Linked DNA regions of Homo sapiens. The protein of the gene in region 1 purifies or fractionates together with the protein of each later gene. This does not show direct contact. Each region holds a gene or a part of one and is shown in the gene's direction. Other genes may lie near its edges.

What was found.
Region 2: the proteins of FKBP15 (region 1) and NAP1L4 fractionate together in Homo sapiens (co-fractionation; one large-scale study listed by BioGRID). This does not show direct contact.
Region 3: the proteins of FKBP15 (region 1) and ARHGEF2 fractionate together in Homo sapiens (co-fractionation; one large-scale study listed by BioGRID). This does not show direct contact.
Region 4: the proteins of FKBP15 (region 1) and DPEP1 purify together in Homo sapiens (co-immunoprecipitation; one large-scale study listed by IntAct). This does not show direct contact.
Region 5: the proteins of FKBP15 (region 1) and ARHGEF1 fractionate together in Homo sapiens (co-fractionation; one large-scale study listed by BioGRID). This does not show direct contact.
Region 6: the proteins of FKBP15 (region 1) and TTBK2 purify together in Homo sapiens (affinity purification with mass spectrometry, with the first as the bait; one study listed by BioGRID). This does not show direct contact.

Annotation. Positions count from the first base shown.
Region 1 is NC_000009.12:113,164,943-113,169,746, reverse strand, and holds part of FKBP15 (FK506-binding protein 15), read left to right. Parts: coding exon 1-523; intron 524-1,190; coding exon 1,191-1,287; intron 1,288-3,591; coding exon 3,592-3,669; 3' UTR 3,670-4,804. UniProt on the Homo sapiens protein: May be involved in the cytoskeletal organization of neuronal growth cones. Seems to be inactive as a PPIase. Involved in the transport of early endosomes at the level of transition between microfilament-based and microtubule-based movement.
Region 2 is NC_000011.10:2,957,178-2,961,981, reverse strand, and holds part of NAP1L4 (nucleosome assembly protein 1-like 4), read left to right. Parts: intron 1-2,072; coding exon 2,073-2,212; intron 2,213-3,437; coding exon 3,438-3,583; intron 3,584-4,804. UniProt on the Homo sapiens protein: Acts as a histone chaperone in nucleosome assembly.
Region 3 is NC_000001.11:155,956,744-155,961,547, reverse strand, and holds part of ARHGEF2 (rho guanine nucleotide exchange factor 2), read left to right. Parts: intron 1-3,151; coding exon 3,152-3,228; intron 3,229-3,665; coding exon 3,666-3,835; intron 3,836-4,804. UniProt on the Homo sapiens protein: Activates Rho-GTPases by promoting the exchange of GDP for GTP.
Region 4 is NC_000016.10:89,615,672-89,620,475, forward strand, and holds part of DPEP1 (dipeptidase 1 isoform a precursor), read left to right. Parts: intron 1-1,213; exon of another isoform or gene 1,214-1,243; intron 1,244-4,372; exon of another isoform or gene 4,373-4,566; intron 4,567-4,804. UniProt on the Homo sapiens protein: Hydrolyzes a wide range of dipeptides including the conversion of leukotriene D4 to leukotriene E4. Hydrolyzes cystinyl-bis-glycine (cys-bis-gly) formed during glutathione degradation.
Region 5 is NC_000019.10:41,888,961-41,893,764, forward strand, and holds part of ARHGEF1 (rho guanine nucleotide exchange factor 1), read left to right. Parts: intron 1-3,064; coding exon 3,065-3,163; intron 3,164-3,370; coding exon 3,371-3,413; intron 3,414-3,642; coding exon 3,643-3,889; intron 3,890-4,313; coding exon 4,314-4,343; intron 4,344-4,804. UniProt on the Homo sapiens protein: Seems to play a role in the regulation of RhoA GTPase by guanine nucleotide-binding alpha-12 (GNA12) and alpha-13 (GNA13) subunits. Acts as a GTPase-activating protein (GAP) for GNA12 and GNA13, and as guanine nucleotide exchange factor (GEF) for RhoA GTPase.
Region 6 is NC_000015.10:42,748,475-42,753,278, reverse strand, and holds part of TTBK2 (tau-tubulin kinase 2), read left to right. Parts: intron 1-31; coding exon 32-1,305; intron 1,306-4,804.

The DNA of each region.
Region 1 (4,804 bases):
TCGAGGAAGCTGTCCCGTTGCCTCCTCAGGCCCTCACCACTTCCCAGGATGGACACAGAAGGAAAGGGGACTCAGAAGCTGAGGCACTCTCAGAGATAAAAGATGGTTCCCTTCCACCCGAACTGTCTTGCATCCCATCCCACAGAGTTCTAGGGCCCCCGACTTCAATTCCACCTGAGCCCCTAGGCCCTGTATCCATGGACTCTGAGTGTGAGGAGTCACTTGCTGCCAGCCCAATGGCAGCTAAGCCCGACAACCCATCAGGAAAGGTCTGTGTCAGGGAAGTAGCACCAGATGGCCCACTACAAGAAAGCTCCACAAGACTGTCCCTGACTTCAGACCCCGAGGAGGGGGACCCACTGGCCTTAGGGCCTGAAAGCCCAGGAGAGCCTCAGCCTCCACAGCTCAAGAAAGATGATGTCACTAGCTCCACCGGTCCCCACAAGGAGCTGTCAAGCACAGAGGCAGGTTCCACAGTTGCAGGAGCAGCCCTCAGACCCAGCCATCATTCCCAGCGTTCCAGGTATGTTCCTCTGAGCACTGCTTCAGGGACAGGGTAGTTATCTGTGGTGAGTGTCTCTGTTTTTTCCAGGGCTGGCAACTCATCCCTCAGAGACTAATTTACTCATGTCTTCATTCATTAGTTGATGTATTAATTCAACAACACCTACCATGTACAAGGCTCTGTGGCGGGCCCTACAGTAGTGTGGCGGGCCCTGTGGTAGTGTGGCGGGCCCTGCGGTAGTGTGGCGGGCACTGTGGTAGTGTGGTGGGCCCTGTGATAGTGTGGTAGGCAAGGCAGGTTTGGTTCTTGAGTTTAAGGAGTGACAGTCAAGTGGAGAAAACAAATACATACTTACATATCATAAAGTATGATAAGTCCTTTTAAAAAAGAAACAGGGTGCTATTCTAAAGGAGTTGTTCCACTTTAGATAGGGTGGCTAGGGAAGGATTCTGAGAAGGTCACATTGAAAAGATGACTCTGGCTGTAGGTTCTGGAGGGGGCCAACCGCACTAGGAGGCCACTGTAGGGTGTGGGAAGAGATGGTGGCAGCGGAGGTGGGAGGAATTCCTGAGCAGTCACCAACGCTGTTGAATTCTTACCCAAGGGCCGGTGACCCTTGTAGGTGGTGGGTACTGTGACCTGGAGCAGGAACAATAACATTTTCTATGACTTGATTTTCCTTCAGTCTCTCTGGGGATGAAGAGGATGAACTGTTTAAAGGGGCAACTCTGAAAGCTCTGAGGCCCAAAGCACAGCCTGAGGAGGAGGATGAAGACGAGGTGGTAAGGAAATCCCAGGCACTGTCAAGTCCTCACACACCCACCTGGGGGCTCTTCCCTACTGGCTCTGAGAAGAGAAATGGAGCCTGTTGGTGGCCCACTCCCTGGACTCTGTGTGCAGGGCCCTGTGGGAGCAGGCTTGGGGCTGGGCTGGGAGGGCGCAGCTCTGTAAGCAGAGTAGGGGACGGTCACATACCACTTTACTTTTGAGAAAGAATCATAGTCTCTGTCCATGCAGGAATTAGTCCCCTCAGAGGAAGAAAGCTGAGCTGCTTAGCCCCACATTGGAATGCTGAAGCCTTAGTTTTCCCCAAATCTGCTAGGATATTATTTATATTTTAGAATTGGAAAGGACTTTGAAGATCATCTTGCCTGGCATCCTTATTCATAGATAAAAAACCTGAGGCTCAAAATGATGATTTACCCAAAGCCACAGAGTGAGTTAATGGCAAAGCTAGGACTAATCCCCAGGCTCCTGTAAAGACCTCCTGTTCCTGAGCATTTTCCACTTACTCAGCCTGCTTTCCTGCTGCCTTGTTTTGTCATCACAATATCCCTGGGCACAAAATGGGTTCAGTATTAATAGCATAGCTTCACAGAACAAGAGTGAAGGCCAGGAGAGGAGGGCACTGATAGGGACTGAATTAGAACCCCGGTTCTCGCCTCTGCTGCTCCCCGCTGTGCTAGGTTACAACCGTTCTGGCTGTCCCTAGGCCATTTTGACTGCTCTGAAATGCATATGGAGAACACAGGTGGGCTTCAGGCTCAGTCCATCTAAAGGACAGAAATATGAGGGTGAATGGGGCAAATTTTGTCCCCTCATGTATCAGCCAGAGTGGATTTTGCCTTTTGCCAAAACCTTGAGCAGAGAGCTGTGATGGATCTATGCTCCAGCTTGCATGTATCGGAGCCCTTCCCTCTTGCCTGTGTTCCTTTGGGGAATGTACCAGTTCCTTCCATGAGTCTTTCTTCTCAAGAGTTAAATTTTCATTTGAGAATCCAGAATAGCAATTCTGCCCTTAAAAAAAGGAAAAAAGGGGGAAAAACCAAATTGAGTATATTCTAAGTGACTGCCCTAAATATAGTTGGAAGCTTTTAATTAGTGAGCATATTATTGGTATTAGTACCAATACTGTCCAGTTAACATGTAGTTCTTGGGTACTCTGAAAACGACTTCACAGATGTTGTCATTTAATCTACTAATCCAATGAGGTAGGTACTTTTATCCCATTTTATATATCAGAGGGCTGAGGCTCAGGAAGATTAAATAATTTAACTAAGCTTATATAGCTAGTAAATGTAGAGCCAGAACTTTAGTCAGGACAAAACAGAAGCTGTGAGCCACACTTGAAAATCCTATACTGTCAGAGTTAGAGATCACGTCATTGATGTCCAGAGAGAAGTACGAGGTCTGGCTAATTGGTAGTGACGTGGGATTAGCCCAGAGACTTGTATACACATCACGCTGCCTTCCCTTTTGCCTGGCCCTGTGAAGATGGATTCTGGTTGGCAGTTGCTCACCAGAGCAGAGAATGCCTTAGTAGAGACTATTCAGTTCGTGCCTGTCTGTAGCATCAATCCCTGCTAGCCGGGTAGGTCCTGTTCCCTTGCCAAGCCAGAGGAGAAAGGCCAGGAGCTCAAGCTGTGAAAAGAGAGGGTCTCTCATGGCCCATCAGTCCCTTTCACCCCCACTACCTTAGCTGGAAGGAGCGAGGGTGGTGCCAGTCAGGCTAGAGGTGTGGGAGGCTGTGGCCCCGTGTTCTTCACCTCTTAGGATTCTCCAGTTGGCCAAGCCTCCAAATTCAACTCTTTCAAATGATGGGATCACACCCAGAGCCAGTCAGGCCACCTTAGGCCACGACGACAGTATTTTTCCATATGTGATTGTCTTCTTCCCAACCTCCCTTCTTCCCACTTCCTCTCGCTCTCTCAGGGCTGCTTTGCTTCTGTTTCTTCCTACTGCTCCAGTGTTTCCTCTTTGACCCTTCTTTCTCCACACAAAATGTGTAAGTTACTGCATGAGAGGAAAATCTGTCAAATCAGTACATGTGCTTCATAAATAAATGATGAGATTAGCCAAACAAAGTTCATCTTTTGTCTCTGTTGAAAGACTGCCTCCCTTCTCTGCCTGCTGGTCTCAGCTTTATCTGGAAGCCTAGGTTTGCTGGCCTCAGAGTTGGCCCTGTCAGTACAACCTCCTTTCTGACCCAGAGCTGGGAACAGAAGTTGGATTGCTTCCACTCACAGGTGGAAAGTCCAGTGGTGCAGGCACAAGTGAGGACTGACTGCTCTTTCCTGTTTTATCAGAGCATGAAGGGACGCCCGCCCCCAACGCCCCTTTTTGGAGATGATGATGATGACGATGACATTGACTGGCTGGGATGAAGACCCAGGAAACTGGTGCAAAGGTTTCTCTGCAACCCTTCCCTAAGCATGATTTTGCACAGCCAACCCTGGGTCTAGGCGAACCACAGGGTGAGGTCAAGGTGAGCATTCTGGGAACAATATTTGGGCTCAGAGGGTGGGTTGGCCACCTTCTGAGCCCCACCCCCGCCAGACCTGGTGAAGAGGATCATAACCCTGTCTTCAAGAACACTGGGATTTCAGCAGCAAGTTGGAAGAAGGACTGGTAGGTTCCCCTCCAAGCCAGTCACCTGTAAGAGTCCTGTCCTCTGCCAGACTTTTTAATCTCTTCATTAACTCTCAGACTGACCTGGGAGCCCTCCTCTACCTGAATCCAGTGCTCAACTGTGCCCCGGCAACAAGACCTGGGCTGAGGTCTCCCTGGTAGAACTAAGGGAGATTACACCATCTAAATCCCAGTGCAGTCAACAGCCTGGCCTATAGTCCTGGGACATGTATCTTCTTCTTTGCCTTAAATCTGATACAAGAGGTCAATGACTTTGAAAATAAAACTAAAATAAATGTCTATAATGAAACTTGACCCAAGCCCTTGGAGAAAAATTGAGTTTGGTTCCAAGGGCTGTCTGTGCTCTTTTGGGAATCTAAGGGTAGGAGTCTTACAGATCTGGGTCAGTTAATGTGCACAAAACGTTGTGGCATATTTACTCCCTTTGATACCTAACCCTGGAACTTTTAGGCTTTCAAAGAAAGTCACCACTGTAGTCCTAGCTCATCCCTGGGGCATGATGGTTCTGTGAGGACCAGTCCAGTCATCCTCTTGCTCCTGCAGGCTTAGTCCTGCAGTCTAGGAAGCCATGCAAAGAAGGTGAGAGGGTCCCTTCTTTCCATTGTTCATGGCACCTGAGGGATTCTTCACTTTGAGAGCAGCTTCCATTCCCTTAGAACTCATGGGACCAGGACTTATGCAGAGAACAGTAGTGAGAAAATACTTGTGGTCATTTTCTTGATTCCAGGATCTTCCAAAGATTATGCAATCAGTCTTTAAAAAAACAGAATAATTAATTTTAATAAAAAATGTTTCTTGATTTTAAATGTTTTAAAAGATAGGACCCAAAATTCCACTTCATCTGGCCTGGCATCATCCTTGCAGGCTTTG
Region 2 (4,804 bases), on another chromosome or scaffold:
GTCTTATTTTCAAGCCACTTTTCATTTGGGCAGCTAAACAGTTTCTTGAATCATCTTCAGTTGTCTTTGGGTTACTCTTGACTGAACAAAGGCAGAGGGGAGAGAAAAAAGGAAAATAGGAAGAAACATGAATCTATCTATAGAAAAGTAGGCTGGGTGTGGTAGCTCATGCCTGTAATCCCAGCACTTTAGGAGGCCAAGGTGGGAGGATTGCTTGACCCCAGGAGTTCAAGACCAGCCTGGGCAACATAGGGAGAACTGGTCTTTAAAAGAGAAAGTAAAAAGGAGGGGAAAAAATGAGTAGGACATGGTGAAGGACCACAAGTCTAATAGTACTATTTGTTTTATTGGGGCCACCCCATGCCCTGGGTTGGTTGTCCACACTGTGGTCACAGCCTTAAACAGTTCTGGAATCATAGCAGTCTCTCCATTGGTTGGCTACTTGTCTTCCCTCTTTATGTTGGTTTTTTTTTTTTTTTTAAGCCGTGGAGGGTTGGGAGAGAAATAGGCATTTTATTTGATGCTGATTCCCTGTAGCTGCCTCTTCCTTTCCTTGTGATTTTTGCCAGGCAGGTGACTGGCCTTTCGTTTGTGTGGTTCATCTGCAGTGCCCTACCCGCTTCCTTTGCTCTTGCCAAGGCCAGTGGAGAGCTCCTAGCCAGATCCTGCTGTCATCCCTTCTAGAAACCGACTAGACTGTCTCCCTGATCCTGACTTCCTAAGCCCTCATGCCCCGCCTCCTCCTCCACCTTTCTTTGAAAGTTGTTTTTTCACTTCTCCTTTGTGCAAGTGGTTTGTTTGAATGTATAAACTTTTTTTGCTGTATATTTTTTTTAGTCCTCTTAATTTCCCCCCCGTTGATGGTTTTACCATTACAATGAAAATGGAAACAGCTGACATTTAGCCAGCCTTGCCTATAAACGCGGCTCTAAGTGATACAGATTAACCACCAAGGCAGCTCCTAGAGAGGGAGAGAGTTATTTCCAGTGTAGAGATGAGGAAACTAAAGCACGGAGACATTGAGTAGCTTCCGCGAGTTGCCTAGCAGTGTAGGCAGAGATGGGATTTGAATCCAGGCTGTCTGAGCGTAGAACTGGTCTTGTAAACTGTCTATAAATTACTCAACCAAGCGCATCTTCCATGTTTTTCTTCTATAAATAGGGATGAGGTCAATGTCTTTGCACATATCGATGCATCCATCCAGGTATTTTTCTCAAATAGAACAAATTCCTCAAAATAGAATTACTGAGTCAGGGAATATGCCTTTTAATTTAATTTTTTTTGATATTGCCAAATTGTCCTTCATAAAATCTGTCGACAGTACATGAGTGTGCTCAGTACCCCAAAATCCTGGCCGGGTCTACATATTTTTGTACATTTTGCCCCAAAGAAAGGCATCTCATTTTGGTGTTCATGTGTTTTGTTACTCGTGAGCATGAATGCCTTGTTGCTGCTGTTGGTTGTTCTATGCCTGCGTTCATGTTTGCATCCTTTTTCCCGGTGTGCTCACGTCTCTTCCAGGTCTGTAGCGTGCTTTGTAAGTGAGGGATGAGCTTTCTGTCCTTGTAGAGATTTGTCCTTTTCTCCCACCCACCTCCCGGGAGAAAAGCTGTGGGTCACTGCTTTCACTGCACAGCACAGAGTAGAGACCCTGGCTTCCCCCAGCAGGGTGGGGGCTGGGGCTTAGGCTGAGCGGAAAAGGACAGGAGGAGGATGGACTGCTGGTCCCCTTACTTTCCCCTAGTCACCTTCCCTCCTTCCAGGAAGCAAGGGCTGGGAGCAGCTAAGAGAAGCTAGGATTTCTTAGGAGAGCTTGACGCCTATTGGTGAGGAGGCATTGGAGGGGGAACATGCCCCTTACTCATGAACTGAACAGATATTTCCCGCCAGTCCATCGTTGGTTTTTTTAACCTCACGCTAGTCTTTTTTGCGGTGGAGAAGTTTTTCTTGTTCATGGCCCTATCTGTTGAGCTTTCCCAAAATAGCTTCTAGTAAGTGTTGTGTACTCCAAGCAATCTGTCCTCGTTATTTTTCTATTTTAACTGGTGCTTACTCTGAATTTCTACTTTTAGTCTTTTGTGTTAGAGTTCCACTTTGAACCCAACGACTACTTTACCAACTCAGTCCTGACAAAAACCTACAAGATGAAATCAGAACCAGATAAGGCTGATCCCTTTTCCTTTGAAGGTCCTGAGATTGTGGACTGTGACGGGTAAGAAAATGTCATTCTACCTTGTTTTTCTGAAACAAAATCAAAAGATAATTTTGTAACTTGATGGGTAAGATAGAAGTAAGGAATAAAGTACAGTCTTGAGTCTGCTTAAAAGCCTAAAAGCCTGGTAGATGTATATTTCAATAGTCTTTCAGTTTGGGAATGCTCATAGTGCAGAACTTGGAGATGGCGGCTGAACCTGGGAAATGAGTCACGTGGTTGCACATGCAAGCCTTTGGGATAGTGCCCTGTTTCTTCATTTTAATGAAAGTAGTGGATTCTCTAGACATCGTGAATTGAAGTTCTTAAAATTGAATCCATGGATTACCCTCAGCAAATAAATACTTATTGAATGAATGAGTCTGAGTCCAGGGCTATATTGATCAGCTGATTGCTTTGGAAATAGGTGGGGGCAGCATAGCTGTTGTTTGACTCACTGATTTCAGTCTTTATAAATCACTAAAGAGAGAATTTGGTTTAGAATTAATTTCTCCAGGTTGGGTTGACTGAGAAATGGTTTTAGTCTTGACTTGAAACAATTACGTTTATTTACCAGAAGTAAATAGTAATTGTTAATTCAGGACTTTATTAAAATCCTGCTAGAGTAATTTAGAAAGATGATTTTCCAGGGCCAGGACATCATGTGAGAAAAAGGCCTGGCCTTACCAAGCATGTTCTTAAGCGGGCAGTATTGAGATCTGCCAGGTGTTGCCTGGGTCTGTGGTGATTGTGTGTTAGAGAGAGCGTGCTGTGCTCAGCCCTCGCCAGCATCCCTGGGGCTGGAGTGGTCTGCACTGGCCATCAGTATTCCCGGTGGCCACCTCTTTCCTTTTTTCAGCTTGTCGTGCTCAGTTGGCTGCTTTGAACAGCAGCAACTCCTCCTTCCTTGGGAAACCGCGGACAAGTTCTTGTGCATCATGCAGACTTGACGGGGCTTTGCCACAGAATATACATTTCAGAGTCCTGATGAAATGTCTTGGGAAAATAATACCATTGTTCCAGAAGTCTGAAGTTCCAGTGGTCACACCCAAGTTGAAAGAGGACCAGGCTGTTTCTCTTTTTGCCAACCTCCAGATGAACTTCATGGGCCATTGTATTTGGTTTGCAGATTGGTTTTATTTCGTTTTCCAGGTTTGGCATAGAGCTGTGGTTTGCTTCCTGCATGCATTTGTAATGGATTTTTCTCATGGATTGTGTGTTCCTGACAGCTGTCTTGTCCTGGTAGGTGTACTATTGACTGGAAGAAAGGAAAGAATGTTACTGTCAAAACCATCAAGAAAAAGCAGAAGCATAAGGGTCGAGGCACTGTTAGAACAATTACGAAACAAGTACCCAATGAGTCCTTTTTCAACTTCTTCAATCCATTGAAAGGCAAGTCTGTTGGTTGTTAATATTCATTATGTTCTTATATAAAATAATTTTGGTCACCTGATAGATTCCTAACACCCAGAGACTTTAGTCCTCTTTTTTCAGGCAAGTGTGGTCAGTAGGGGCACATTGCTGTGTCCCAGGCTGTTCTGTTGGTGCGCTGGCAAGTTTATCGCGGGGGGCAGAGGTAGCTAGGACAGTAAGAGTAGGATTGTCATCTTCTGCAGGAAAGGGAAGAGCTTTACTCTGCTTGGCTGTAGCCCAGGCAAAAACTTGCAGTTCTGTTTTAAGAAAACTGAATCGAGTATTTGCACCTGGGCTGCTTCCTCACTTGGACACCTGGAGCACCCTTCTCCACCAGCTGGCATTTCTGCCCCGCTGTTGTGTCTGGTTCGCACCCCCCGGGGACCACTCCCAGCCTCGGAGAGCTGCTGGGTTTGCTCTGCAGGTACCCGTTACTGCTGTACGCTGGTTCTAGTTGTGCTGCTTTTGGATCATCTGCTTAGTCCCCCTTTTCTTGTAATTTTTTATGCATAATTTGATAGAATTTTTTGGAATTTATATATTGTAAGAAACACAAGTAGTTGGGACTTTCATTTTTGAAAAACATCGGCAGAATCACAGCTTGGAAGCTGCTTCTTTTTGTTTATTTATTTATTTTTTAAATTTTCCTAAGTGGTAAAATAAAGATGAGACCTTTGAGCTAGTAAAGGTTGACCAATTGATTTTAAGAGTAAATTTCTTGGGATTTTTCATATAATTTCCTAATCGCGAGAAAATGTGAAGGTCAAGCAACTTGTCAGTGTTAAAATATCCATATTCTCTTTAGTTTCCATGAACTAAAACATAATTTGAAGTGAAGAGATGCCAGCCCCTGCTGCAGATAATCAGTGAGTGTTTGTTTGTATGTGGGGCCACAGGGCGGATCTCTTCTCCAGTCTGAGTGATTGATTTTTTGATTTTGTCTCTGAGCTTAGCACCCTTATTTATCAAGCTGCCCTTCAGAGTTCAGTCCATTATTTTAATTGTGGTGCCTATTTTCTGCAATTAGACTTTGAACCTAGAAGATGCAAATACATACGGTTTGGGGAATGAGAGCAGTCATAAATTTAGATATTACATTTCCTTTTTTTGGAAGATTCCTTTTAGACACTTGGGTTGGGCATACTGGAGATTGTCTGTGAATTCAGCGTGAAGAAGGGAGGCTTTAATTTCTGGAATCAC
Region 3 (4,804 bases), on another chromosome or scaffold:
AATCCCAGCACTTAGGGAGGCCGAGGCGGGCGGATCACGAGGTCAGGAGATTGAGACCATCCTGGCTAACACAGTGAAACCCTGTCTCTACTGAAAATACAAAAAATTCGCCGGGCGTGGTGGTGGGCGCCTATAGTCCCAGCTACTCAGGAGGCTGAGGCAGGAGAATGGCGTGAACCCAGGAGGCGGAGCTTGCAGTGAGCCCAGATTGCACCACTGCACTCTAGCCTGGGTGACACAGCAAGACTCCATCTCAAAAAAAAAAAAAAAAAAGAATCAACCTCCCTTTATGCAGCCCATACAACAGTGAGACTCAGTGGGAGAGAAAAATAGGATCTCTGTGGCAGAAAAGCCTGAATTCTGCAGTTAACTTTATGGACCATACAGGGCCTTCCCTATCAGTATTTTATAATTTCTTTGGTCCTTGCATGCCTAGAGAGCTACTAGTTTTACTGAGGAAGACAAAGAAGCTCTCAGACTGGAGGACAGGATCAGTTGATTCCCCCAGCTGGAATCCCAGCTACCAGGGATGGGAGTAAGCAAGAGCTTTGGGGAGCGCAGCCAGAGGAGGCCCAGAGGAGGGGACTGAGCCGGTGAAGGACAGGCAGGGAGGAGAAGAGACAGCAGGGCAGAGGGAGCAGATCAGGGGCCAGGGCACACTTTCCCAGGCTCTCTTTCCAGAATTTGTCTGCACTGGCAAAGTCTTTCTCACCTAAATCAAAGCAAGAGAATAGCAGGCCTTGGCTTTGGGGATGAGATGTGAGGGACAATAGGAAACTGTGATACCTGAGGCCAAAGCCTGCCTGAGCCTCTGTACCTGTGTCATGAAATCCCTGCTCCCTGGGTTTGGATATTGTCAGTCTTCACCAGCCTCTTTCCTTTATCCCTTTCTCTCCTTCCCATCTCTCCCACGCAGCAGCTAAGAATATAAACCATGGGGGATTAAAAATAGCAAGGCTGGAGAGTGTTATTTCTGAAGCATTTAGCAAAAGCCCTCCCCTTCTGTGTGCCCACAGTTTAGTAAAATCCCCAAGGGCAAAGGAGGAGTGTATGTTTTCTCTCTCTTTTTTTTTTTTTTTAGAAACAGGGTCTCGCTTTGCTGCTCAGGCTGGGGTGCAGTGGTGCAGTCATAGCTCACTGTAACTCAAACTCCTGGGCTCAAGTGATCCTTCTGCCTTAGACTCCTGAGTAACTGGGACTACAGACCTGCACCACCACACCCAGCACATTTTTAAATTTTTTGTAGAGATAAGATCTTGCTATGTTGCCTAGGCTAGTCTTGCTCAGACTCCTGGCCTCAAGTGATTCTCCTGCCTCAGCCTCCCAAAGTGCTGGGATTGTAAATGTGAGCCACTATGCCTCGCCCTCTGTTTTCTTGATTGTGACATCCAAGTTTTATGGAATTGATCTTTGTTTCCTCCCTCAGTCTTGGAGTGCTGACCCCATAGGATCTGAGAGCTTGGAGTGTGAAGCAGAGAAAGAAATTGAAGCAGGGGCCTGCTGGGGTTGAAGGAGATGGGTGGGTGAGGGATGGTCTTTCAGTCCTCTGCGAGAGGAAGGAAACTTTCTCCCTCCCTACCAAGCTCAAAATTAGAAGTGGGAATATGCCAGGACAGGGAGAATTTAGGTCAGATAGCCGTAAAGGTCTTCCTTAGTTAGATATTAGAAATGGAATTTAAAGGCTAAAAAATGTGGTCCAGGCTGGGCACGGTGGCTCATCCCTATAATCTCAGCACTTTGGGAGGCTGAATCAGGCAGGCAGATCGCCTGAGGTCCGGAATTCGAGACCAGCCTGGCCAAGATGGTGAAACCCCATCTCTACTAAAAATACAAAAATTAGCCAGGCATGGCAGCATTCACCTGTAGCCACAGCTACTTGGGAGGCTGAGGCATGAGAATCGCTTGAACTCAGGAGGCAGAGGTCACAGTGAGCAGAGATCACACCACTGCCCTCCAGCCAGGGCGACAGAGCGATACTTGGTCCCAAAAAATAAAAAATAGGCCAGGCGCAGTGGCTGATGCCTGTAATCCCAGCACTTCGGCAGGCCAAGGCAGGCAGATTACTTGAGGTCAGGAGTTAGAGACCAGCCTGGCCAACGTGGTGAAACCCCGTCTCTACAAAAATGCAAAAAATTAGCCAGGTGTTGTGGCGTGCTCCTTAATCCCAGCTGCTCAGGAGGCTGAGGCAGGAGAATCGCTTTTTCCTGGGAGACAGAAGTTGCAGTGAGCCAAGATGGCACCACTGCACTCCAGCCTAGGCGACAGAGTGAGACTCCGTCTCAAAAAAATAATAATAGAATCAAATTAAATTAAAAATAAATAAAAAATAAAAGTATGGTCCCTCTTGCTCTGGGGAACCTTATGAATCTCACAAAAATCTTGGACCCTGTCACCCAAAAAAATACACGAGTTATGTTAATATGTAAAACTATTTACACACCTTCAGAAGGTTTACAGAGCCACTGAAGCCTGACATCCCAGGGGGTCTGTAGGCCCTAGGTTAAGAAACCTGAATCAGTCAGGTAGAAAGGGTTTTCTGTAGACACTGAGTGATCCCTGTGGTTCCTGCTAGCCCACAACGCTGTTTTGTCTGATAGCACATGAATCTTTCTGCACCCTGCCCGCCCCCCACCCCCCACCCACACTGTTTTTAAGCTGTAAGAATGTGTGACCAGGCGCGGTGGCTCATATCTGTAATCCCAGCACTTTGGGAGGCCGAAACTGGTGGATAAACCTGAGGTCAGGAGTTTGAGACCAGCCTGACCAACATGGTGAAACCCCGTCTCTACTAAAAATACAAAATTAGCCGGGCATGGTGGCACACGCCTGTAGTAGTCCCAGCTCCTTGGGAGGCTGAGGTAGGAGAATCGCTTGAACCCGGGAGGCGGAGGTTGCAGTGAGCCAAGATTGCACCATTGCACTCCAGCCTGAACAACAAGATGAAAACTCTGTATCAAAAAAAAAAAAAAAAAATAGAATGGGTGAGGTGTGAGAGGTCTGAAAAAGTGCAAGCAGCCAGAGGGAAGAGAGGCCAGGAAGAGGGAAACTGGGAGCTCTAACCTGATGGGATAAGCCTGGTCCTTGGGAAAGAGGGAAGCAGCTGCTCAGACCGTCTAGTGCTGACTGTTCTCCCACCTTCATCCCCTTCCAGATGTGCTAGTGCTGCTGATGACAGATGTACTGGTGTTTCTCCAGGAAAAGGACCAGAAGTACATCTTTCCTACCCTGGTGAGACATTCATTCTTCACCTTTCTCAGCACAGACAAGTGTTTTAGTCTCTTCTTGCTTTCCTGCCCAAGCCCACGAGAGCTCTGGAGTCCCCCAGAGTCAAACAGCTATAATTGTTACTATTACCGTAATAATAAAAAATAAGAGCAGCTCACAGGTACTGTTACTGTGCACAGGCACTTTTACACCTGTGGGAAAAGATTATTTTCGTCCTCATTTTATAGATGATGAAAGTAAAGCTTCAAGTCAGTTAAATAATTTGTCAAGGGTTGCACACATTTCTAAGTCCCTTCTGGCTGGCACCAGTGCCTGGCTCTTAACTGGTATTGTAAGATGACTCTTCAGTCCTTTCAGTCCTCGTCCAGAAGGATTGAAGGCCTAAATATGCCAAGGGACAGGATTCCCAGGCTTAATCCTTCCTTTCCCCTGACTGGCAGGACAAGCCTTCAGTGGTATCGCTGCAGAATCTAATCGTACGAGACATTGCCAACCAGGAGAAAGGGATGTTTCTGATCAGCGCAGCCCCACCTGAGATGTACGAGGTGCACACAGCATCCCGGGATGACCGGAGCACCTGGATCCGGGTCATTCAGCAGAGCGTGCGCACGTGAGTGTCTGCCTGCCGCCTGCATGTGCTTATGACCTCAGGGTACCTGCAGCATTAGATCCCAACCATAGAACTCCCTGGGAACAGAATCCAGCATTCAGAGGTGGGGGAAGAGGTTGAGGGAGAGACAAAATGGCCCAAGACTGGAAAGGTCACCTATGTTCTTATGTCCTGTAAAGCCACATTTTATACATTGCCAACCTCAACTCCCTTTCAAATTCAGCATGAGCTGACAAGCAAGGGAATACTTTGAGCTGTCACATGGTGGCATACCTGCCAGCCAACAGTACAATTTCAGCTGCATTCACATGTTCATCTGTAGGCAGAGGGCTGTTATTTGGATTGTATTGTATTTTACATTTATTTTTCTAAAAATGAATGAAAAAGAGGATAATGAAAGCATCGATACTAGAGAGGAACAAGTCTCATAAACAGACTCAACACAATAGAAGCAAGAAGGAAATCAGTGTGTCAAAGCAGCAAATCTTTAGCTTCTATTGGACACACATTAGATTTGAGGCAGTCAACTATGTGTCTAATTGTGATGGGAAAAAACATCAAATAAAGCACAGGTAAGATGTTTAAAATGGATTCTGGAAGATTATGCCTAAAGAATGAAGTGTAAGTGTAATTCTAATTCAGATTTTTACAGGTTTTCTTTCTTTTTTTTTTTTAATTTTTTTTGAGACAGAGTCTCGCTCTCAGCTCACTGCAACCTCCACCTCCTGGATTCAAGCGATTCTCCTGCCTCAGCCTCCCAAATAGCTGGGACTACAGGTGCCCACCACGACCCCAGGCAAATTTTTTTTTTTTTTTTTTTTTTTTGGAGACAGAGTCTCTGTTGCCGGGCTGCCTCAGCCTCCTGAGTAGCTGGGACTACAGGCTCACGCCACCATGCCCAGCTAATTTTTGTATTTTTAGTAGAGACGGGGTTTTACCATGTTGGCCAGGATGGTCTTGATATCTTGA
Region 4 (4,804 bases), on another chromosome or scaffold:
CGCCTTGCAGGACCCCGCGAGGCCCCGGTGAACTGGAGCCGGGAACCGGCCCCACGGAGGCACGTTGGGATTTGGCCACCAGAGGGCAGGAGCTGCAGCAGCCAGGCAGGCGGTCAACACGGGGGCCCCGGGGTCCTGGCCGGCTGGTGGGGTGTGAATTGGAGAGGAGTGGGCTGTGTGGAGGGAGACCAAGCACCAAGGCCCGCCCTGGCCTCTGAGTGTCCACCCCTTTCACAGGCCCATTTCACAGATACTGAGGCCCAAAGGCGCAGGGCTCAGGCGTCCCCTACGTGTCGTGTCCCCAGGCAGGAGAATTACTTGAACCTGGGAGGCAGAGGTTTCAGTGAGCTGAGATCACACCACTGCACTCCAGCCTGGGTGACAGAGCAAGACTTCATCTCAAAAAAAAAACACAAAAAGTGAATTTAAAATGCTCCCTGAACTCCAGCTGGGGTGCGCAGCAGGAGGCTGGGTCCGTGGGGCTTCGGGGGCTGGGCTGGGGGTTCAGGTGGGTGGGGGAGTCAGTGCTGTGGGGATAGGGCTCAGAGCCCAGAAACAGACAAGCCCACACAGGTAGCCAGTGTCGACGAAACAGGAGAGGCTGGGACCTGTGCCCTGGAAGGACACAGCCAGCGGGTCCTGGGTCACCCACTCCGGGGCTGACCGGGCACAGTTTCACAGAGCAGTATGGCCCAGCCAGCTGTGAGAGGATCGGACAGACGGGCGGAAAGGAGGGGAGACAGCGGGTGTGCTCGGGGCTGTGCCGGGAGGGGTCCTTGGATGGAGGAGGGGGTCGCCAGGAGGCATCTGCATCCCCGGGGTGGTGAAGACCCAGCGTGTATGGCCGACCTCGAGGACAGGGCGATTGCTCCACCAGAATGTTCCCAGATGGCACAGATGCTTCTGGTTCTGGCACTGGGACCTGCAGCAGGATTCCCGGGTGGCTTAAAGAGGTTCCTTGAAGTTTGTGATCAGGAATTCAAAGTAGCGCAGATTGGGACGGCTGGGCCTTCTCCCCTCAGCACACTCCGCGAAGGGCAGTGCAAACGCACGCTGGCAGGAAGTGGCTGGGAAGCAGGCAGAGAGCGACCAGGAAGCGGCCAGGAAGCAGGCAGGAAGTGGGCAGGAAGCAGGCAGAAAGCGGCCAGGAAGTGGCCAGGAAGCGGACAGGAAGTGGCCAGGAAGCAGGCAGGAAGTGGGCAGGAAGCGGCCGGGAAGCAGGCAGAGAGCGGCCAGGAAGCGGGTAGGAAGCGGGCAGGTTTTACCGAGCGGCGTGACGGCTCCAGAGGGGATGATGGAGTCTGGCAGAGAATGGGGCGGGAGGCTGGAGGTCCTGGGCAGGCCCTGGAGCAGAAGGGGAAGGGAGGGGTGGGGTGATGGGACTGCAGTGAAGGTCTGGCCCCACCCGAGCAAGGTGAGGGTAGCACAGGTCATTACATGTCAGGGAATTGCTTGGCCAGGGTTGGGGACAATTCTCTCTTATTAGAATTGCCAGGAATCAAGACAGGGTGGAGCTAGAACAAGGGAGAGGGAGTGGCAGAGAGATGGGGTGCTTGGGGCTCTCATGTGATGCCCTGAGGACACTGCATGAAGACTCACGGCTGAGCTGGGTGGAGGTGGGAGAGGTAGGCAGGCACCAAGGCCCAGGGCCCTGAGAGGTGAGGGGAAAAGCGCTCCTGCCTCACGAGGCCACAGGAGCTCCCTCAGCACGGTGCCTGCATGGAAGAATTGCTCAGCTAACATGAGCTCTGAGGCTTGCGCACATGTTACAGAGAATGAGGTGGAAGCATCCACGCCAGGAGGTCTCCAGGCCATCTGGTCAACAGAAAGCCAACAACATGCAAAGGACAGGAGCCCACACCTGTGCCGGTCTGTGCCAGAAATGCTGGAAGGCGGCCGGGCGCGGCGGCTCACACCTGTAATCCCAGCACTTTGGGAGGCCGGGCGCGGCGGCTCACACCTGTAATCCCAGCACTTTGGGAGGCCGGGCGCGGCGGCTCACACCTGTAATCCCAGCACTTTGGGAGGTTGGGCACGGTGGCTCACACCTGTAATCCCAGCACTTTGGGAGGCCGGGCGCAGTGGCTCACACCTGTAATCCCAGCGCTGTGGGAGGCCAAGACGGGCAGATCATTTGAGGTCAGGAGTTTGAGACTAGCCTGGCCAACATGGTGAAACCCCATCTCTACTAAAAATACAAAAATTAGCTGTGTGTGGTGGCATGCACCTGTAATCCCAGCTACTCGGGAGGCTGAGGCACAAGAATCACTTGAACCTGGGAGACGGAGGTTGCAGTGAGCTGAGATTGTGCCCCTGCACTCCATCCTGGGCGACAGAGCGAGACTCAGTCTCAAAAAATATAAAAAAATAAAAATAAAAAATCATCATTCTAAGTCAAGAAAAATTAAAATTTTAAATTATTAGCATGTATTTACCATTTATCTTCATATTGTGTAATACTTGGCTTAAATGCAAATAGAATAGGATTTAACTCATACAGAATCAACAAAATTGTACAATTCACATTTTTATTTTAATTAATTTATTAGTTTGTTTATCCATCTTGACAAGGTCTTGCTCTGTCACCCGGGCTGGAGTGCAGTGGTAGGATCACGGCTCACTGTAGCTTAAACCTCCTGGACTCAAGCCATCTTCCTGCCTCGGTCTGCTATGTAGCCAAGACCACAAGTGTGTGCCACCACGCTTGGCTAATTTTTATATTTTTTGTAGAGATGGGGGTCTCCCTATGTTTCCCAGGCTGGTCTCAAACTCCTGGCCTCAAGCGATCCTCCCGCCTTGGCCACCCAAAGTGCTGGGATCACAGGCATAAACCACCAGGTCTGGCCTACATTATTTATTTATGCATTTAGTTTTGAGACAGGGTCTCACTATGTTGCCCAGGTGGGAGTGCAGCCTCAAGCTCCGAGGCTCAACAACCTTCCCACCTCAGCTTCCCAAGTAACTGTGACTGCAGGCACACACCAGCCTGGCTAGTTTCTTTATGTCTGTAGAGACGAGGTCTCCTTGTGTTGCCCCGGCTGGTCTCAGACTCCTGAGCTTAAGTGATTGCTGCACTGTTCCCCGGGCAAAGTTGCACAATTCGCATTTTGTAACTTATAGATTAATATTTATTTTATTTTCACCAGAACGGTAGGAACCCTGCACAAAACTGGTTTTATTTTGCTCTTTACGTACGCACATCCCACCAGCACCCTCTACCTTTGGCTTCCGGAGGGTTGCCCTCCCTGCTCCCTCCCTGCAGCTCCCTGCCCCCCTGCTCCCCTCCCTGCAGCCCCCCTGCCCCCCCGCTCCCCTCCCTGCAGCCCCCTGCCCCCCCCGCTCCCCTCCCTGCAGCTCCCTGCCCCCCTGCTCCCCTCCCTGCAGCCCCCTGCCCCCCCTGCTCCCCTCCCTGCAGCTCCCTGCCCCCCTGCTCCCCTCCCTGCAGCTCCCTGCCCCCCCTGCTCCCCTCCCTGCAGCCCCCTGCCCCCCCGCTCCCCTCCCTGCAGCTCCCTGCCCCCCCGCTCCCCTCCCTGCAGCCCCCCTGCCCTCCCTGCTCCCTCCCTGCAGCCCCCTGCCCCCCCACTCCCCTCCCTGCAGCTCCCTGCCCCCCCGCTCCCCTCCCTGCAGCCCCCTGCCCCCCCGCTCCCCTCCCTGCAGCTCCCTGCCCCCCCGCTCCCCTCCCTGCAGCCCCCTGCCCCCCCTGCTCCCCTCCCTGCAGCCCCCTGCCCCCCCTGCTCCCCTCCCTGCAGCCCCCTGCCCCCCTGCTCCCCTCCCTGCAGCCCCCTGCCCCCCTGCTCCCCTCCCTGCAGCCCCCTGCCCCCCTGCTCCCCTCCCTGCAGCTCCCTGCCCCCCTGCTCCCCTCTCTGCAGCCCGCTTTCCCCCTGCTCCCCCCGCTCCCCTCCCTGCAGCCCCCTGGTCCCCCTGCTCCCCCCGCTCCCCTCCCTGCAGCCCCCTGCTCCCTCTGCTCCCCTCCCTGTAGCTCCCTGCAGCCCCCTGCTCCCCTCCCTGCACCCCTTTTGCCCCCTGCTCCCCTCCCTGCAGCCCCCTGCACTCCCTTCACCCCCTCCCTGCAGCCTGCTGTGCCCCCTGCTCCCCTCCCTGCAGCCCCCTGCACCCCCTCCCTGCAGCGCCCTGTGCCCCCCACTCCCCTCTCTGCAGCCCCCTGCGTCCCCTCCCCTCTCTGCAGCCCCCACTGTTCCTCCCACTGCTGCCCATCATTGGCTGCTTGAAAATGTCAGACTCCAAGGGCCCCTGTGACTAGCCCAGCAGCAGCCCTAGGTCTCCACCCTGCCTTGGGTGGGGTCCGGGATAGGCCTGGCCTCCCCCCGCCTGCTTGAACCCACTGAGTATGCCCCCCTCCCGCCGCAACCTCAGAATTCCAAAGCCAGCCTGGTCTCCAGCTCAGTGCGGTCCACACGCAGACCCTCCTTGGATTTCGAAAGCCCGTGTGGCTTTGCCAGAGGACATTCCAATCCTCGATTGTGGCTGGGGATGGAGGGAGATCAACCCATCGCACTTACAGATAAAGAAACTGAGGACGGAGTTTGTCCCAACTCCGGGGCCAGGGTCAGTGTCCTCCGAGGGAGTCAGGGAGGTGGCTGGGGTCTGCCAGTGGGGGGGACACACGACCTGGGACCCCCAGGCCACTTGAGACTCTCTGGGCTCGTTGGGCTGGGCCCAAGCTCCCAGGCCCCCTCCTCTCCATTTCTCAACCTGCTGCCACCTAAGGCAGATACCCTACACTACTGCCTGGGGGGCCTCAAAGGGTGATCACCCAGCACAAGCTCTCCTGCCTGGCCTGGGA
Region 5 (4,804 bases), on another chromosome or scaffold:
GGAAAAGCAGATCTAGAACACAGAGAGCCAGATCTAGAAAGAGAGAATGCTTTAGACAAGAGCCAGAAAGCATGCCACGTGACCTCAACAGGCTTACAAGTGCCCAGGGTAGATCTCAGTGCGCAGCGGGCAGGGTACACACGTCAGGACCCCGCGGAGCCACAGAGAGTCCAGCAGCCTGGCAGAAACCACATCCCATCCCACTCTGTGCCTGTGGCAGCGCCCCCATCAGCCTGTGGCAGCACCTTTCCGTGAACTCTAGGGGACCAAATTCTTCTCTCCAAAGCCTTTTTGGCAGATGCCAGCACGCAGTCATTCACGGTTGATGGTTGGGAAAAAGAAGCTGTTAGCCATCCCAGGTCTAGGGAGCACAGCAGGCCCTGATCTGGAAACAAGAAAACCACCACACACAGCTCACAAGGCAGACCACACAATTGTGGATCCAGAAGCCTCCGGATGAGGCAGAAGATACCTGGGAGATGTGGATGGACAACCGTGCCATCCAGAAACACCCGCAGAGTCTAGAAAACCCAGCAGGTGATTTAGAAAGGGAGAGGCCACAGTGCTGGCTGGCAGGGGATCTGTAGACAAGGGTCTCATCCCAAGAAGACCCCGTCCAGCCCAGCACAGGATAGGAGGACAGCCTGGGGACAGCCAGGGCACTGCACCATGTGGACATGCATAGTGGACCCCTCCAGAAAACAAGGAAACCGATAGAGTGGGGAGAAGTGCCCGAGGCATGCAGAAAGAAGAACATGTCAGCTGCAAGACCAGAGGCTGGTCATCCGGACGCCAAACCATCAGATATGCAGAAAATTAGGAAATTGCAGTCTTTCCCCTGTCTACATTCTCTTTCCAGAAGAGTGGTTCCCCCGACAACCACATGCACGGAGACTCTGGCCCTCTGAGCAAGGGAGTCCCCTATTCAAGCCTTGGGGTTTCTAGAACACCAGATTGTGGACATCAGCCCAGGGATCGTGCTGACTACCATGTTCTTTTACAGATGTGGAAACCGAGGCCTAGAGAGGGTCAGGGACTTGCCTGAGGTGACCCCGGCGGCCTCTGGGCATTTTGAGGTTTATTCTCGCATAGCTCCCTCACCTCATCAGCTTGTGGGGAGCCGATCAGAGATAGCTGTGGTCCCCTGGGCAGCTTCCTGTTGGCCTGTCTTAGAATTTTGCTATATTTGGGGGGTGTGAAGAGTGGATATAGATGTGTTAAAACTGTTTAAAGTGGAGAAGGAGGACCGGGCCTGGTGGTTCATGACTGTAGTCCCAACGCTTTGGGAGGCTGAGGCAGGAGGATAGCTTGAGCCTGGGAGGTTGAGGCTGCAGTGATTGCACCACTGCACTCCAGCCTGGGCGACAAGAGTGAAACCCTGTCTTGAAAAAAAAAAAAAAGTGGGGCCGGGCATGGTGGCTCACACCTATAATCCCAGAACTTTGGAGGCTGAGGTGGGTAGATCACTTGAGATCAAGAGTTCGAGACCAGCGTGGCCAACATGGTAAAACCCCGTCTCTACTAAAAATATGAAAATTGGCCAGGCGCAGTGACTCACGCATATAATCCCAGCACTTTGGGAGGCTGAGGCAGGTGGATCACCCGACGTCAGGAGTTCAAGACCAGCCTGGCCAACATGGTGAAATCCCATCTCTACTAAAATAGAAAAATTAGCCAGGCACAGTGGTACACACCTGTAATTCCAGCTACTCGGGAGGCTGAGGCAGGAGACTCACTTGAACCTGGGAGGTGGTGGTTGCAATGAGCCGAGATTGCACCATTGCACTCCAGCCTAGGCGGAAAAAAAAAAAAAAAATTAGCCAGGCCTGGTGGTAGGCACCTGTAATCCAAGCTACTCCAGAGGCTGAGGCAGGAGAATCGCTTGAACCCAGGAGGAGGTTGCAGTGAGCCGAGATCACGCCACTGCACTCCAGCCTGGGTGACAGAGCGAGACTCCATCTCAAAAAAGAAAAAGGAGAAAAAGTCCCACTCCCATTGGAGTGAGTTCATTTCCCAGATGAGAGCCCCCAGGAGCCAGGACAGGTTGGAGTCCCCACTGTCACCCAGAACAGGGGCGGGCACTCAGGAAATGCTTGACGAATGACAGAGTGAGCCCCACTTGTCCACCTGTTCTTTCCAAGCCCTCAGTATGCACAAGGCACCACCATCTGGGACACAGATGGATCAACCTACAACACCCCTCAACACACACAAACCCTTAAGCTGCTCACAGTCTTTCCAGGCAGTGGAGTGTAGTAGAGACAGGCTGCCTGGATTCGAATCCTAACTTTGCCACTTAGTAGCTATGTGATTTTGGGTTTTATTTATTTATTTATTTATGAAACAGTCTCGCTCTGTGTCACCCAGGCTGGAGTGCAGTGGCACAATCTCCACTCACTGCAACCTCCATCTCCTGGGTTCAAGCAGTTCTCCCTGCCTCAGCCTCCCGAGTAGCTGGGATCACAGGTGCCCACCACCACACCCGACTAATTTTTTTATTTTTAGTAGAGACAGGGTTTCGCCATGTTGGCCTGGCCGGTCACAAATTCCTGACCTCATGTGATCCACCTGCCTTGGCCTCCCAAAGTGCTGGGATTACAGGTGTGAGCCACTGTGCCTAGCCTAGTTGTGCGACTAAGCTTGACTAAACTTCTTGAGCTCCGTTTTCTCATCTGTAAAATGGGGATAATGACGGTCCCTATGATTGAACACGTTAATGCATGTAGAGGGTGTAGAGCCGTGTCTGGTATACACTAAGCCGTCAGTATAGACAGTAGTAGTAGTTGTTGTCATTATTGCCGGGAGGAGACCATGATGAAGAACCACAAAGGACCATAGCACAGGATGGAAAATTAGAAAATGCTCATGGCAGCCCCAGGGAGCCTGCAGGGGAACCCAGGGCCTGGCTTTAGGGGTGGAGGTCAGGGAGTGCTTCCCAGAGGAAGTGGCAGTTGAGTCCCACAGCCATAGGATGGCCAGGAGGTGAGGAAGGCCCTTTTCAAAGGGAGAGTGTGGTTTGAGGCAGGGTGAGGGAGCGGAGAGTCATGCTGTGTGTCTCCCCCAGCTTTGCTGTCTGCATGCCGACATGCTGGGCTCACTGGGCCCCAAGGAGGCCAAGAAGGCCTTCCTGGACTTCTACCACAGCTTCCTGGAGAAGACAGCGGTGAGAGACCTTCAAGCTGCCCCAACCCTGCAATCCCTGTTTGGGCCTGCAGAGTCACCATGCGGTCCCCAGCCTCTGCCCTGAGGGCAGCTGCTGACCCAGGCCTTCCCCAGCACCCTCGCTTAGACCAGGGTTCCTGGCAGTCCTCCCGGCCTGCATCTCAGCACACCAAGTCCTCCTCTTCACCCCATTCTCTCTCTTGAGCAGGTTCTCCGGGTGCCGGTCCCTCCCAACGTCGCCTTTGAACTTGGTAAGGAGAAGGATGGGATGAGGGAGAGGTGTCTAGCGGGGACCACACCTCCCAGGAGGCCAAGGGGAGGGAGGCCGCACTCCCATGCTCTGCTCGGACAGCCGAGATTCATTCATTCCTTCTTGGCAGCGGCCTCAGGACGTGTGGCTGTTGGAGTCCAAGGGTGGGTGGGGACCGTGGTCCAAGCCACCAGGGAGCTGGACCCTAGCCCCCATGTGTGTCCCTGCAGACCGCACTAGGGCTGACCTCATCTCCGAGGATGTCCAGCGGCGGTTCGTGCAGGAGGTGGTGCAAAGCCAGCAGGTAGCCGTGGGCCGGCAGCTGGAGGACTTCCGTTCCAAGCGGCTCATGGGCATGACGCCCTGGGAGCAGGAGCTGGCCCAGCTGGAGGCTTGGGTTGGGCGGGACCGAGCCAGCTACGAGGCCCGGGAGCGGCACGTGGCGGAGCGGCTGCTCATGCACCTGGAGGAGATGCAGTGAGTAGGCCAGCCCTGGTGGGAGCGTCGCCCCTCCCCAGCACAAGGGCACCCGTGCTACCTCTGGCATGTTCCATCCCGTTTGCAGGTTCCCTCTTCAGGGTCAGAGTTCATTTCTTGGCACTGGGGGTCTTCCTCTACCCTGGTGTTTTAACTCACCTTGAATCCGAGTCTTCCCTTTCCAGCTTTGGGGTTCCCTTGTCATTTCTGGGTCTTGTCCATGATCTGGCACTTGGATCCCATCCTCCTGGATGAGAGACCTCCCTCCCTCTTATGACAGTCCTTCCCAATCCCTTCCACAGTGTCCCCTCTCTGTCTCTCTTCCCCCTGCCTATCCCAGGACAGCAACCCTGAGATGTATCCTGGGTGGATGGGGACCCCAGGCCTAGCAAATATGTCACAAACATCTCTCTTCCTCCTACAGACATACCATCTCTACCGACGAAGAAAAGAGGTGAGGGGGGCAGGGGAGGCGTGCGGCCTCCTGGGTTTGAGGGAGGAGGGGGCTGAGGGCCTGGACTCCTGGGTCTGAGGGAGGAGGAGGCTGGGGGGCCTGGACGCCTGGGTCTGAGGGAGGAGGGGGCTGGGGGGCCTAGACGCCTGGGTCTGAGGGAGGAGGGGGCTGGGGGGCCTGGACGCCTGGGTCTGAGGGAGGAGGGGGCTGGGGGGCCTGGACGCCTGGGTCTGAGGGAGGAGGGGGCTGGGGTCCTGGACGCCTGGGTCTGAGGGAGGAGGGGGCTGGGGGCCTGGACGCCTGGGTCTGAGGGAGGAGGGGGCTGGGGGCCTGGACTCCTGGGTCTGAGGGAGGAGGAGGCTGGGGGCCTGGACTCCTGGGTCTGAGGGAGGAAGGGGCTGGGGGGCCTGGACGTCTGGGTCTGAGGGAGGAGGGGGCTGGGGGGCCTGGACGCCTGGGTC
Region 6 (4,804 bases), on another chromosome or scaffold:
TGCATTTTAATTTTTTCTTCCCCTTCTCCAGATTACAATTCCTAGACCTTCTGTGGCATCTACACAGTCAACTTCAGGAAGCTTTCACTGTGGTCAGCAGCCAGAGAAGAAAGATCTTCAGCCCATGGAGCCCACTGTGGAACTTTACTCTCCAAGGGAAAACTTCTCTGGCTTGGTTGTGACAGAGGGTGAACCTCCTAGTGGAGGAAGCAGAACAGATTTGGGGCTTCAGATAGATCACATTGGTCATGACATGTTACCCAACATTAGAGAAAGTAACAAATCTCAAGACCTGGGACCAAAAGAACTTCCTGATCATAATAGACTGGTTGTGAGAGAATTTGAAAATCTCCCTGGGGAAACTGAAGAGAAAAGCATCCTTTTAGAGTCAGATAATGAAGATGAGAAGTTAAGTAGAGGGCAGCATTGTATTGAGATCTCCTCTCTCCCAGGAGATTTGGTAATTGTGGAAAAGGATCACTCAGCTACTACTGAACCTCTTGATGTGACAAAAACACAGACTTTTAGTGTGGTGCCAAATCAAGACAAAAATAATGAGATAATGAAGCTTCTGACAGTTGGAACTTCAGAAATTTCTTCCAGAGACATTGACCCACATGTTGAAGGTCAGATAGGCCAAGTGGCAGAAATGCAAAAAAATAAGATATCTAAGGATGATGACATCATGAGTGAAGACTTGCCAGGTCATCAAGGAGACCTCTCTACTTTTTTGCACCAAGAGGGCAAGAGAGAGAAAATCACCCCTAGAAATGGAGAACTATTTCATTGTGTTTCAGAGAATGAACATGGTGCCCCAACCCGGAAGGATATGGTTAGGTCATCCTTTGTAACTAGACACAGCCGAATCCCTGTTTTAGCACAAGAGATAGACTCAACTTTGGAATCATCCTCTCCAGTTTCTGCAAAAGAAAAGCTCCTCCAAAAGAAAGCCTATCAGCCAGACCTAGTCAAGCTTCTGGTGGAAAAAAGACAATTCAAGTCCTTCCTTGGCGACCTCTCAAGTGCCTCTGATAAATTGCTAGAGGAGAAACTAGCTACTGTTCCTGCTCCCTTTTGTGAGGAGGAAGTGCTCACTCCCTTTTCAAGACTGACAGTAGATTCTCACCTGAGTAGGTCAGCTGAAGATAGCTTTCTGTCACCCATCATCTCCCAGTCTAGAAAGAGCAAAATTCCAAGGCCAGTTTCATGGGTCAACACAGATCAGGTCAATAGCTCAACTTCGTCTCAGTTCTTTCCTCGGCCACCACCAGGAAAGCCACCCACGAGGCCTGGAGTAGAAGCCAGGTAATGCTGTGTGCTCTCCCTGTGTTAAGTGTGTAACACCATTTCTATATCTGCTTTATTGTAGTCCACCAATGGCAACATTTCTGTGTTGCCCCCTTCTCAGTATCTTTCTTTCCTGCCTTTCCCAGGCCTTACAGCCTAGTGCAGTAGAAGTAATCAGATTTTTTCCAATTTATTGCGGTAAAATACACATAACATAAAATTTAGCATCTTTTGTTTCGTTTGTTTTTGAGACAGAGTCTCGCTCTGTCACGCAGGCTGGAGTGGAGTGACTCAATCTCAGCTCACTGCAACCTCTGCATCCCGGGTTCAAGAGATTCTCTTCTGCCTCAGCTACCCAAGTAGCTAGGATTACAGGCACCTGCCACCACACCAGGTTATTTTATTTTATTTTTTTAAACTAGAGACAGGGTTTCGCTATGTTGGGCAGGCTGGTCTCAAACTCCTGGCCCCAAGTGATCCACCTGCCTTGGCCTCCCAAAGTGCTGGGATTACAGGCTTGAGCCACTGTGCCCAGCTGTATCTTAATCATTTTTAAGTGTACAGTTCAGTGGTAGTAAGTACATTCACATTGTTGTGTTACACTTAATATTCTAAAGTTATAACACTTTCATTTGGATTTATATCAGCTTAACTTCAATATCATGCAGAAACTGCTCCTTTCAGTCTCCATCCCCACTCCTTTCAGCTGTTGATGTTACAAAATTACATCTTTATACATTGTGTGTTCAAACACATAAACTAATAATTTTTAAAATGCATTAATCTCTTAAATTATGTAAAAAACAAAATGTGGAATTTTAACTGTCCATGTGTTTGCCTTTATTAAGATCTTTATTTATTCATATGGCTTCAAGTTCCTGTGTGGCGCCCTTTCATTTCAACCTACAGGACTCCCTTTAGCATTTCTTGCAAGACAGGTCTGGTGGTAACAAACTCCCTTAGCTTTTATCTGAGAATGTCTTAATTACTGCCTCATTTTTGAAGGACAGTTTTGCCAGATATAGGATTCTTAGTTGACATTTCTTTTAGTATTTTAAAAGAAGTACTTTAAAGTACTAAAGTACTTCCAGCCTCAATGTTTCTGATGAGAAGTGTTCTGATAATTTTTTTGAGAATCTCAAGATTCTCTGTCTTTGTCTTTTGACAGTTTAATTATAATGTGTCTCATTGTGGGTCTCTGAGTTCATCCTACTTCGAGTTTGTTGAGCTTCTGGGATGTTGTATATTCATGTCTCTTATGACTTTTGGGGAGTTTGCAGGCTTTTTTTCTTTTTTTTAAGTATTCTCTCTGCCTCTTTCTCTTTTCTCCTTCTGGAACTCCCACAATGTGCATGCAAGTCTGCTTGATGGCCCCACAGGCCCTTTATTGTCTGTTTACTTTTCTTTACTCCTTTTTTTTTCTGTACCTCAGACTCAATACTTTCCATTGTCCTGTCTTCAAGTTTGCTGATTTTTTCTTCTGCCTGCTCAAATCTGCTCTCGAATCCATCTAGTGAATTTTTTATTTTAGTGATTGTACTTTTTAGTTCCAAATTTTTTTTGGTTCTTGTTAGGTTTTCTGTCTCTTATTTATATTTCCATTTTGTTCATACATTGTTTTCTTGACTTTCTCCGTGTCTTTCTTTAGTTTTTCAAGCATCCTTAAGAGAGTTGTTTCAAAGTCTTTGTCTAGTAGCTTTGCTATCAGGTCTTTTTCAGGTACAATTTCTGTTGATACATTTTTTTCTCCTTGGAATGGACCATCCTTTCCTGTTTCTGTGTAAGTTTTTTTATTTTTTTTGTTGAAAATTGGATATTTGAATCTAATAATGTGGTAACTCTGAAAATAAGATTTTCCCCTTTCTTCGGGATTTGCTGTGGGTTGTTTTTGTTTCTTTTTATTTTTGAGACAGGATCTCACTCTGTCACCCAGGCTGGAGTGCAGTGGAATAATCATGACTTATTGCAGCCTCTAACTCCTGGGCTCAAGTGATCCTCCTGCCTCAGCCTCCTGAGTATCTGGAACTACAGGTGCATGCCAGCACACCTAGCTAATTTGTTTGTTTGTTTTTTTGATGGTTGTAGACTGTCTCTGTGCTGAGGACCAGCCTGAGATGTAAACCTAAGGTCTCAGACCTTTTCTAAGCCTGTACTTTTTCCTGACTAAGCATAGTAGCTTTCTGATTTCCCCAGTATATGTGGTTGGTTTTGAATATACAAGTCTTTAATATCTGGCTCCGAAGAAGGGAAAAAAGAAAAATGAGGGAAGAAGAAAAAAGAGGACTGGCCCTTTTAATCCCCTAGCAGTCACTTCAGCCAGAGGAGAACCAGTTTGTAACAATGGGGAAAAATGTAAGAGTTACTACCTACCTCTTTCTCTGCTCTTCTGTGATCAGAAGCAGCAATGAGTAATCAGAGCACAGATCCCCAGTAATTGGAGGACAGGGTTCTTTTTGCCCACCTGGTTCTTGTAAGCTGTGTGCACACTGCTCCAGAAATAAGTGCACAGCTGCCTGCCATGGGGCCGGGAATGGGGGATGGGTAGCTGTTAACTGTGCTAAGATCTGAAATAGACTAAAATTAACTGTAATTGACAGTCCAAGCCTTCTCCTGGAAGTTGCAAGCCTTTGGTAGACTCCAGATTTCCAAGATAATTACATCAGACAGATTCTGCCAGTGCAGTTGCCTAGGTGGGGAGACAGATTCCTAGTGCTTCCTACTCTACTGTCTTCCCAGAATCTTCTCTGATCCAGGTTAATTTTTGGCTCTCCCACTTTCTAGCAGTAAGAACCTCCATTTCCTCATCTACGGAGTGGGCAAAATATTTGCTTAATAGTTTTGGGAGAATGAAACAAAGCCACAATCATCTAGGAGTTGGTACATTGCTTAGCATGTAATAAAGATTATGTCTGTCTCCAGTTGCATTTTGATGATCAGCAATTTTCTAGCTTTGTTCAGTCAGAATCCCATTATGTCCCATAATGCCATTATGATGTCAAATGCTAGTGAAGAATACGTTGTCCATGATTTGATAAATGGACCCTGGTAACAGTGCTGTTTATCTTGATTATAATGAATTAAACCAAAAAAATCCTATAGATTTCCCTAGGTCTGATGGTATATACAACCATACATAGTAAAGATACTGCTTTAGTATATACTGCATGCTATACTTTTTATTTAAATATTATCTTGATATATTTGACCACAGAATGTTTATATTTTGAGGAAGAGGGGAAAATATTGGGAGGTGGTAAACCAGTGAAGAGTGCTTTCCAGGGCCAAATGTGGTGGCTCACACCTGTAATCCCAGCACTTTGGGAGGCTGAGGCAGGCAGATTGCTTGAGCTCAGGAGTTTGAGACCAGCCTGGGCAACATGGTGAAACCTCATCTCTACAAGAATTAGCCAGGCACGGGTGCTACACAGCTGTATTCCCAGCTACTTGGGAGGCTGAGGTGGGAGGATCCTTCTATGAGTTGTTGTCTGTCTTCATGTCAAAACATTCTATTGGGTTA